Linked DNA regions of Homo sapiens: all the other regions are linked to region 4. The links come from fine-mapping of genetic effects on gene expression. A gene starts in region 4. Each other region holds a variant in brackets. All regions are shown on one strand. Distances are between the middles of the regions.

What was found. PIP is the estimated chance that this variant, and not a neighbour inherited with it, causes the effect. A credible set is the group of variants that fine-mapping cannot tell apart.
Region 1: its variant is the best candidate, but not a certain one, in a credible set for the expression of RBM15-AS1 in whole blood (INTERVAL, PIP 0.76).
Region 2: its variant is the best candidate, but not a certain one, in a credible set for the expression of RBM15-AS1 in lung (TOPMed, PIP 0.87).
Region 3: its variant is the best candidate, but not a certain one, in a credible set for the expression of RBM15-AS1 in whole blood (INTERVAL, PIP 0.62).

What each region holds. Positions count from the first base shown.
Region 1 is chr1:110,270,423-110,273,167 of GRCh38, forward strand. It overlaps a transcript of KCNC4 not described here and the pseudogene LOC124900436. Among named protein-coding and RNA genes, the nearest start is that of KCNC4, 61 kb to the left of the region's middle. The variant T/C (reference allele first, on the strand shown) is at 1,131.
Region 2 is chr1:110,305,980-110,308,692 of GRCh38, forward strand. The region is part of intron 2 of RBM15-AS1 (RBM15 antisense RNA 1); the gene reads right to left. Among named protein-coding and RNA genes, the nearest start is that of RBM15-AS1, 32 kb to the right of the region's middle. The variant G/A (reference allele first, on the strand shown) is at 1,414.
Region 3 is chr1:110,274,433-110,277,177 of GRCh38, forward strand. It overlaps a transcript of KCNC4 not described here. Among named protein-coding and RNA genes, the nearest start is that of RBM15-AS1, 63 kb to the right of the region's middle. The variant C/CAA (reference allele first, on the strand shown) is at 1,522.
Region 4 is chr1:110,338,070-110,340,569 of GRCh38, forward strand. It overlaps RBM15-AS1 (RBM15 antisense RNA 1), which reads right to left and starts at 1,102. Exons shown (of 4, transcript NR_036595.1): 1 at 928-1,102. It overlaps RBM15 (RNA binding motif protein 15), which reads left to right and starts at 1,308. Exons shown (of 3, transcript NM_022768.5): 1 at 1,308-2,500. The coding sequence starts at 1,337. It overlaps LOC124904276, which reads left to right. Exons shown (of 1, transcript XM_047437983.1): 1 at 1-934. The coding sequence starts at 366. The coding sequence ends at 872. RefSeq lists enhancers at 1-176, 1,317-1,616, 1,647-1,766, 1,737-2,475, 1,847-2,296 and a silencer at 277-546.

The DNA of each region.
Region 1 (2,745 bases), 68 kb before region 4:
GATCAAACCAAAGCTAAGGAGTTGGATGAGGCTATACTAATAATCTCAGGGTGGACTTAGAGGCAGCCTGATGACCCTGTCCACATAGGCACTGCGAGTCTTACAAGTTGTCCCCATATGTGTCTACTGAACTTCTTTAGGGAGATAAGCTGCTGACTGGAGGGTGTGAGCACAAACCAGGAGGCTGAGCGAATGACCTTCAAGAAAGGAACAAACAGGTGCAAGGGAGCTGGTTGTGAGGAAGATAAATAGAAGCAGTATGTGCAAGGGAAACAAGGCTACAAAGGTGGGAAGGGATTGCCTCCAAAGTGGGCCTGGCTCTTCTCACCCAACCACACTGCATCAGAGGTGAGCAGCCTATCAGGGCCTGAGGTCTGAACACAGGATGCCTGGCCTACCCTCAGTTGCATTGCATTTTTCAGCCCCTGCAGACTGGCTCTGCGGTGGCCTCAATTCAGAGGTACACATTCCAGGACATTGGAGGAGTCTATTGATGTGGAAGATCAGCTCTTCAGTAGATTTAGACCCTGGGGGGCTGAATGGAACCCTCTTGAAAGATCTTTTCAGGAAGGCTTGGAAGCCAATGGAAGGATCCTGAGGATGACAGTTCTGGAGAGGGTAGAAATAGAAAACAAACAAACAAGGAATGACTCTCCAGAGTCAAAGGCATGCAATTCTCCTTGTGTGAACTGGCAAGGGCTAGATGCCACTCAGACCCTGGAGAAACTGAGCAAAGAGAAAAGAGAGGTTAAACCTTCAGAGGTGGGAAGGTTGTGAGAGTTCAGGGCATATTCCTGGAGGTGAGTATAGCTGAGCACTGATGGTGTGGTTGGGTGAAAGCTGGATAACAGAAGGTCAAGAAGAAAAGAGCACTAAAGATCATCTACTCCAAATTCCCTCTTTATACAGGGGAGAGATCTGAAGCTTAGGGTGGGGAAGGGATAGCCCACAGTTACATTGCTAGTTAGTAGTAGAGCTAAAACTGGAACCCAAGTCTCTGGACTCTTGAGAGTAGTTTTGAATCCTGGCAGCTCATTAGAAAAATCTAGTCTAGAAAATTTCTCTTAAAGAGCAAAAAGCTAAGTATGGGAAGCAAGACTCATGTGAACCCAGATCTGTTTGGACTGGTT[T/C]ATTCCTATCCCAAATACCTGCACTTGTGTAGCCTCTGATTACAGGGGCTTAAGCTTGTGAGTTCAGTGCCAGCAGACAACTTTCTCATTCTTTAGAAGGCCATTCCAACAAAAAGTGGGCTAGCTGCCTCTGGAAACATTTAGGTCCAGTTTTGCTAGGAAGCAAACAATCATGTGGGGGCTGTTTCTATTGCAGGGTGGGGAAGAAGGGGGTTGAGGTGTGAGGTTGGGGAGGAGACTGTCCCCATCGCATGCTTTGGGAATCTTCCCTCTTGCTGCCAACTGTACAGTGACTCTGAAAAGCATCTGAAAGAGGAGGAGGAGGAGGCTCCGTTCACACATGAAAGGCTAAGACTCACTTAGGTTATAACACACACTCACCCATAATTACCCCATATTCCTCTAAATTGTCCACACCATGATGGACAGATCCCCCCTTCCCGCCACAATTTTCCCTAAAGTTGTGGACCTCTGATGACCTCGAAACTGATCTAACATAGTAATTTTGTTCTGGGGTACCTGGCCCACTCCATCTTCTTCTGTGATCTGTCTTGGATTGTAAGCCCTACTGAAGGGACCAGCTGGACTGCCTTATGTGTTCTATGTGACCATCCAGCTACAGCTGGTTGGACCAGAATCAGATCCTGTCTCAATGTTGAACAATCTATTGGCTGGTCAGCAGCCAATCAGATTCACCCTCTTGAGAATTTCAAGTATGTGTTGCACAGCCAGAATGCAATCAGAGCTCAAAGGTTACTGAGGGTTGGGAACTTTACCTACAATCAATGCTGTAAACAGGCTGAAGTCATTAAGAGGCAGAGATGCTTCTTGAACAAGCTGCAGAGAGAAAAATGGCCCAAATGTATGAACAGATGAGACCATAGAGACACCATAGAGGCCCCAGAGAAAGAGAATCAAAGAGAGGGACTATAAGTCATTTCAAAGAGGGCTTGGATGGCTATGAAACCAGAGCTCTTAAGGTTATAATAAGATTGAAATTTTCCATAGGATGCTGTAGTCACACAATAGTGCTGTTTTCTTGAGGAGACAGAAGACTTAGCCACTCATAATCATGACATCTCATTCATAATAATCCATGATTGGAGGTGTGGGAAAGTGAATAGGTATCTTACAGTTAGGGTGAGAGAGGAAAAGAGAAAAAGAGGGGTTGGGGAGAGAGAGACAGAGAGAGGATACCTTGAGCCCTAACAGTTCAGATTTCCCAGATGCAATTTTCAAAATGATACTGGCTGCACTTTATTTCCATGAGCTGTCTTAGAACCTTACAATGACTACCTTGTTCATTTTGGTTTGCTTTTCTGTCCTTTGCATGCAGTAAATTCATCCTAAAATTCATTTATCTAAATGTAATCTGATTTCCTTGTATTATAAAAATGCTCACTCCCAAGTCTCCAAGGGATAGTCCTGGAGTTGGTTGTGGTGTCTATGTAAATCTCCGCAGTTCCCCTGACAATTGGCCTTGGCAGAATGAAAGACCATTAAGAAGCTGAGCAAGGAGAGGAAGGAGGAAAGCTTCACCTCTGTAACTGCATATAATGTTTCCTGGAGAAAAATGGACCCAGGAGCTGAAAGAGGGCATCTAGTTAGAGCTACA
Region 2 (2,713 bases), 32 kb before region 4:
CTGTGGCACTCCAAAGTAAGATCAACACTAAAATCAAGACTCACCTCTTACACCATGTACAAAATAGGCTTTTCTGTCTCCATTTCCCTTTTCTCATGTATAGCCCTTCCTCCTTTCTTTCTCTGCGCTCCTCCTCCTCACATGCCTGGGGTTCCCTGCTCCATTGTGGCCAGACCTTTGCAGGCAGTGATATTCCTTGCCTGCTGACCTCTCGGTTAGCTCCTCCTCCTAGACCTTGGCTTCCTGGCCCCCTTCCACAAAAGTGGAGCACAGGAGAATTGCACAGGGAGCATTGCAGTGTGGAGTGTAAGTTCTGGGCCTCTGCCTTTTTTCTCCCCTGGTGACTTGGGCTGGACCTAAGGTTGCCTGAACCTGCCTCATCTGAGCCCAGAGCTGGCCCTAGGTTACCAGGCCTCTCTTCAGAGGGTCCTCTAGACCTTGAGAACACCCTTCCCCTTGGCCAAGAGCTTCCCAGTTCTTTGAGCCTCCAAGTCAAATACTCCTAGCATGTCTTCCCTGCAGGACACCATGCTCCTAAGGTGAGGAGATGGGTGCCTACTAATGCTACCCCATGGTAGCATTGGGATGTTGTCCAAGCTCCCCGTGTCTTTTCCATCTGTTCCGTTCTCAGGTGCTTCTTCCCAATCCTCTATCGCAAAATGTCCTCTGTGCTTTTAGGCATGTGACAGAGATTGCTGATTGATCACCAAATCCATCTCACCTTCTCTGGCATATGGCTAGGCTTCATTTCCCAGGCTGCCTTGCAGGTTAGCTGTGTTCTTGGGAATGAGTTTTGGTCAGTGGAGTGTGAGGTGATGTGTGCCACTTTCAGACCTGACTGTAAAAACATCCCAGTGTGGTCTCAATGTTCTTTCTTTCTGCATCCACTGGACACCAAATCCCAGGGCAGCCTTGGTTGGAGACGGCAAAACCATGGCCACCCAGGTCCCTGAATAACTGAGTAGAGCACAAGCCCATGCTACCAACCCGTACCTGCCCTGGAGTGAAAGGAGCCAGGAGACAAGGCGCACTCACATGTATACATATATGTGCACAGGCTGTCATCACATCTGGTTGGGGGTGCTCCTCTGGGCTCCTGGCCTGGTACTATTTCTAGTTAACAGGCAGGGCATGTCTGCCTCAAGGATCTGTGGATGAGGGGCCTTCTGCTTCCCCAGACACCTTCCTGTCCATGTCGCCTTTCAAGTTAGTCTGCAAATTGCTTTGGACAATCTTGCTCAGATCCTGAGGCCAGAAAGAACATTTCTTTCCCTGCAGGCCGATGACTTGACTCTTGCCACTTGGCAAGCTTCTTCCTCTCGCTGTGGAGAATGGGGCCAAGTGATGGTCAGAGGAGGGACCAAGGACTCCAGCTGAGACCAGATCTGATTCTAAGTGGTCAAAGGAGCCCCT[G/A]ACCTTGGCCATCCCTGCATACCTCTTGCAGATAGAAGCCCCTGTGTCAGCAAATTTGGATTCAAGTTTCAGAGACTAGATTTGATGCACAGAAAGACGCTGCTTGATTTACCAAAGAGGCACAGGACAGAAGGCCTTCCTCGGACTGTCTCTGGCAATTTCCCGCTGTCCCACCCTAGGGATGAAAGGGGCGGTAGTCTCCTCAGACTGTGTCCATGGGTCTGGGGGTCCTTCCGCTTCCACTACTCTGTGATGCCTGCTGGGTGGGGTCTTCGGTGAGGCACATGCTCCAGCGAGTCTAAACTGCGTTAGAAGTAGTTTCTTAAACTACCTTAGTCAAGTGCTCATCAAGCCACAAATGAACAGCTGCCTCCTGCCTTGAGCCCGATGCCTGGATTATTCATCCTTTTTGGCTTTCAGATCCTCTTTTTGGATCCAGGCAGATACTGCTCCTTCCACAGCCACCTTAGTTTGTAATGTCATCTTCCCAGTCACCCCCTCCCCACTCCTGGCCCTTTTCTCTTTTTGGCTGGGCACATCTACCTCTTCTCCAGGCCCCTCCTTTCATCCTGGATAGAGTCTCTGGGGCATGGCTCCAGGCTTCTCTTGCTTCTAATCAGTTCCTTTCCCCCTTATCCCAGCAGCCTCACATTCATTTTGTTGGCTCCTCTCCATTTTACTGAGCTTTCCTTAAAATATCTCCTTCCTTTTTATCTATCTCTGTTCCATCCCCTTGGAAGTGTGGTCTTTAGTAGGCCCTTGTTTCTCATGCCTCCTGGGGCTCTTTCCTTCCTCATTATGACCATCCACCTTGTCCAGGCACCACCCTGCAGCTACTAGAATACATATCACTGATGGAGTGTGGAATATGTGCCAGGCACTATGTAAATGCTTTGCCTGCATTTTTTCACTTCATTTCCTCATAATAACCCCTTGACAGCAAATGCTATCACCCCCTTTTAGAGTGAGGAAACTGAGGGAGAACCACAGAGGTTGAGTAATTTGCCCAGAGCCACAGTCCGTGGGAGGAGGAATTCCAATCCAGCTCTCTCATGCTCCCTGTTCACCCTGCCTCACACACACTCCAAGTCAGCAGATATTTATGAAAAGTCTACTGCATACAAAGTGCTGTGGGTAATAGTTATGTGGGGAGGAAACAGAAAGAAAATAAGATTCTGTCTATGCCCTCAAAGAGCATCGCCTAGGGTAGGAGACATGCATACGTATGTATAACACTACATGGAAAGCCTAAGGGTTAAACATAAGCACAGTTTCTGAGCGCTTAGGAGAGGGAGTGGCC
Region 3 (2,745 bases), 64 kb before region 4:
CTGCCCAAAGCAATCTACAGATTCAGTGCAATCCTTATCAAAATGCCATTGTCATTTTTCACAGAATTAGAAAAAACAAGCCTAAAATTCATATGAGACCTAAAAAGAGCCCAAATAGCCAAAGCAATCCTAAGCAAAAATAGCAAAGCTGGAGCCATTACATTATCTGACCTCAAATTATACTACTGGGCTATAGCAAACAAAACAGCATGGCATGATCATAAAAATAGACACAAAGATCAATAGAACAGAATTTAAAAACCCAGAAATAAAGCCACATACCTACAGCCAACTGATCTTTGAAAATGTCAACAAAAATATACACGAGGGAAAGGATACCCTTTTCAATAAATGGTGCTGGGGAAATTGGATTGCTATATGCAGAAGAATAAAACTGGACCCCTGTCCCTCACCATATACAAAAATCAATTCAAGATGGATAAATACTTAAATGTAAGGCCTGAAACTACAAAAATACTAGAAGAAAACCTAGGGCAAACTCTTCTGGACATTGGTCTAGGCGAAGAATTCATGACTAAGACCTCAAAAGCACAAGCAATAAAAACAAAAATAGACAACTAGAACTTAACTGAAATGTTTCTGCGCAGCAAAAGAAATAATCAACAGAGTGAACAGACAACATGCAGAATGGAAGAAAATATTTGCAAACTATGCATCTAGTAGGATACTGATGTCCAGAATTTACAAGGAACTCAAACAACAACAAAAGCAAAAAACAAATAACCCCATTAAAAAGTGGGCAAAGGAAATGAATAGACATTTTCAAAAGAAGACATACAAATGGCCAAGAAGCATAGGAAAAAAATGGTCAACATCACTAATCATCAGGTTTTAATGCAAATCAAAACCACAATGAAGTATCATCTTATACTAATCAGAATAGTTATTATTAAAAAGTCAAAAAAATAGATGTTGGTGAGGATGCAGAGAACAAGGAATGCTTATACACTATTGGTGGGAATGCAAATTAGTACAACCTCTATGGAAAACAGTATGGCTATTTCTCAAAGAACTAAAAATAGAACTACCATTTGATCCAGCACTTCTACTACTGGTTATCTACCCAAAGGAGAAGAAATCATTATATAAAAAAGATACTTGCATTTGTATGTTTATCACAATAGCAAAAATAGGGAATCAACCTGAGTGTCCATCAATGGAGGACTGGATAAAGAAAATGTGATATGTATATACCACGGAATACTATTCAGCCACTTAAAAAAGAATGAAATCAGCTGGATGTCCCTGTAATCCCAGCACTTTGGGAGGCCGAGGCGGGTGGATCATGAGGTCAGGAGATCGAGACCATTCTGGCTAACACAGTGAAACCCCGTCTCTACTAAAAATACAAAAAATTAGCCAGGCATGGTGGCACACGCCTCTAGTCCCAACTACTCAGGAGGCTGACACAGGAGAATCACTTGGACCCGGGAGGTGGAGGTTGCAGTGAGCTGAGATCACGCCACTGCACTCCAGCCTGGGTGAAAAGAGACTCCGCCT[C/CAA]AAAAAAAAAAAAAAAAAAGAAGAATGAAATCATGTATTTTTCAACAAAATGGATGGTACTAGAGACCATTATCTTAAGTGAAAAAAACTCAGAAACAAATTCAAATACCATATGTTCTCTTATAAGTGAGAGCTAAATAATGTGTACAGCTGGACACAGAGTGTGGAATGATAGACACTGAAGACTCTGAAGGGTGGGAGTGTGGGAGTGGAGTGAGGGATGAGAAATTGCTTAATGGGTACAATGTACATTATTCAGGTGAAGGTTACACTAAAAGCCCAGACTTCACCACTATATAATATATCCATGTAAAAAAAGCTGCACTTATATCCTTTCAATTTATACAAAAAAAAAAAAAAAAAAAAAAAGGACCTTAGTGTTCTGTGACCTTTATACGTGAAGAATGGGTTAATAGAAATAGCTGGGTTTTCATGGTGTTCAGGCAAACAGGACACCAGGACCAGAGAGAGAAAGAGAATTTCAGTGTCTGCAGCTTTTTCAGAAGGAGAGGGAGCCCTGCCTAGTCCTCATGGGTACCTGGACTTCTTGGCAGGACTTTTTCTGGAGTGAAGACATAGGTACCTAGCTCCCATGGCATAATATATTGACCATCAAAAGCATAAACCAACCTCCTGTGCCCCACATTCTGCCTCAGGACCATCCAGTCCAGCCTGTTTGGGTTCTATTTCTCATGACAATTCTGATTTACCATCAATCTCTTAGGAGGCTCATTGGCATGTGTTAGTCCTATAGGGCATCTAAATGCAAGAGCATCATCTTCAGGCAGAGAGAGCAGGACATTTTGTATTCAACACATCTTAGAACAGCCCCAGGAGCTTAGTATCTCATGCAGGAATAGTGTTATCATGTCACCAAGCCAAAAACAAACTAAAGACTGACAAACATGGACCTCCAAGGGGAAGACTGCAAAAGTGAGTTGATAACAGACAGTTGCCCCCAGAAGTTCTCAACAGTGCTGAGAGCCGGGTCATATGTATATACCAATACCACCCACACATTTTTCATTATCAGAGACTCAGATTTTACCAAATTGCAAAGGACATATAAACTGTCTTCTGAAGCCTCTGCTTTCAGCATTACCTTCCACCCCACATCCCGCTGAAATCTAAATTTAGCCATCTGTTTTCACCATTCCAATAATCACAGGGACTTAGGCTTACTTGATAGGGGTGATAATGTAAGTGAAGTCAAGAAAGAACACA
Region 4 (2,500 bases):
GGAAAAACAAGTGACATATCTGCATGGAGCCTAAATTTCGCTTGGTGATTTTCAGGGTAGAAGCATTACATATTAAAAACACTGCTATTTTAGGGGAATACAGAATTTAAAAATCCACACAGATTCGCAACATAAAACATGCCGCCCAAAGACACGTCCGCGGTGTCCCGACAGTTCCGGCTCCGCCCGCGGGCCACGAGGCGGGGAGCGACGGTCACTCCCCTCGGTTACCCGGAGTACTTGGGCGGGAACGGGTAGCTCGCGGGAGAGACGGGCTCCTGGGCGAGGGCTGCGTCTTAGTCGCCCTGCTTCTTAGCTCTCGAGGTCCCGCGTGTTACGTGTTAGCACCGCCCGGGGGCGTCAGCATGACCCGAGGCTGCAGGAACCGTGAACTCTCTGCCCCGCGGGCCCAGGTGACCGCGGGCGGCGCTCTCCCGCGCGCGGGGGGCGGGGCTCCCCCCGGCTGTTCACTCAGCTACCACAGCGACGTAAAATGGTGTCCGCTAGGCGTCCCAGGACGGCTTCCTGAGGGACTGGAGGGCCCCGACAGCCGGAAAGCCTGCCCCGCCCCTTGGCCGGCACAGGTACGACGGCGGGGAGCTCAGAAGTTTCGAACTCCAAGGGCCGAAGCACAGCCAAACACCCCACGGAACTTAACAAATGTTTGTGGGGAGAACGCCGAAAACGCGGGGAGGCGGGGCTGGCGCACAGTCACCCTCTCGCGACATCTAAGTGACGTCGCACAGCAAGCACGTGTTCTAGTCTTTCACCTTCAGTCAGCCTCCTCCGTTATACAGGCCTACCCCTTTAAGCGAGTGATGGACAGTTATTTCAGCCTATCAACTTCCTTGCCGACATCCAATCAGATTTAAACTTCTTTTAGCCGCCGGAGGAGTTGGAAAAAGGGGGTCGAAAGAGGGAGCTTACCGTCTCTCGCGATATCGCTGTGAGCCTGCCTCTCTGGAAAAAACGCCGAAACTGATGGCCCGACCTCCCAAATAGTGGTTTAAAGGACGGGTTTATAAGCCAATGAAAGGGATAAGGAGGTGGGTTGCTGCTGTCACTGAGCAAGAAGTACCGTTACAGGGCAGACTTTTTGTCCAATCAACACCTCAACACTTTGGGTCACGTGACCGCAGAGTGCGAGGGGCGGAGCTACAGTCTGGCGCGAGGAACCGTTAAGATAGACAACAAATGTAACCAATGAGGTACTCCGACTAGGGGGTTGGGAACCCAATAACAGTGGTTGGGCGGGCGCCTTCCTGGAGCGCGGGGAGATGTAAAGATAGACAAATAATTTTCCCAATGAGACTGTAGAAGAGAGAGCAATTGGCCAATGAGGACTGCGGGGCGGGACCCTGTGCCGCGGCGGAGTCCAAGATGGCGGCGTGCGGTTCCGCTGTGTGAAACGAGCGCGGGGCGGCGGGTTACTCAGCTCCGCGGAGACGACCTCCGACGACCCGCAACAATGAAGGGAAAAGAGCGCTCGCCAGTGAAGGCCAAACGCTCCCGTGGTGGTGAGGACTCGACTTCCCGCGGTGAGCGGAGCAAGAAGTTAGGGGGCTCTGGTGGCAGCAATGGGAGCAGCAGCGGAAAGACCGATAGCGGCGGTGGGTCGCGGCGGAGTCTCCACCTGGACAAGTCCAGCAGTCGAGGTGGCAGCCGCGAGTATGATACCGGTGGGGGCAGCTCCAGTAGCCGCTTGCATAGTTATAGCTCCCCGAGCACCAAAAATTCTTCGGGCGGGGGCGAATCGCGCAGCAGCTCCCGGGGTGGAGGCGGGGAGTCACGTTCCTCTGGGGCCGCCTCCTCAGCTCCCGGCGGCGGGGACGGCGCGGAATACAAGACTCTGAAGATAAGCGAGTTGGGGTCCCAGCTTAGTGACGAAGCGGTGGAGGACGGCCTGTTTCATGAGTTCAAACGCTTCGGTGATGTAAGTGTGAAAATCAGTCATCTGTCGGGTTCTGGCAGCGGGGATGAGCGGGTAGCCTTTGTGAACTTCCGGCGGCCAGAGGACGCGCGGGCGGCCAAGCATGCCAGAGGCCGCCTGGTGCTCTATGACCGGCCTCTGAAGATAGAAGCTGTGTATGTGAGCCGGCGCCGCAGCCGCTCCCCTTTAGACAAAGATACTTATCCTCCATCAGCCAGTGTGGTCGGGGCCTCTGTAGGTGGTCACCGGCACCCCCCTGGAGGTGGTGGAGGCCAGAGATCACTTTCCCCTGGTGGCGCTGCTTTGGGATACAGAGACTACCGGCTGCAGCAGTTGGCTCTTGGCCGCCTGCCCCCTCCACCTCCGCCACCATTGCCTCGAGACCTGGAGAGAGAAAGAGACTACCCGTTCTATGAGAGAGTGCGCCCTGCATACAGTCTTGAGCCAAGGGTGGGAGCTGGAGCAGGTGCTGCTCCTTTCAGAGAAGTGGATGAGATTTCACCCGAGGATGATCAGCGAGCTAACCGGACGCTCTTCTTGGGCAACCTAGACATCACTGTAACGGAGAGT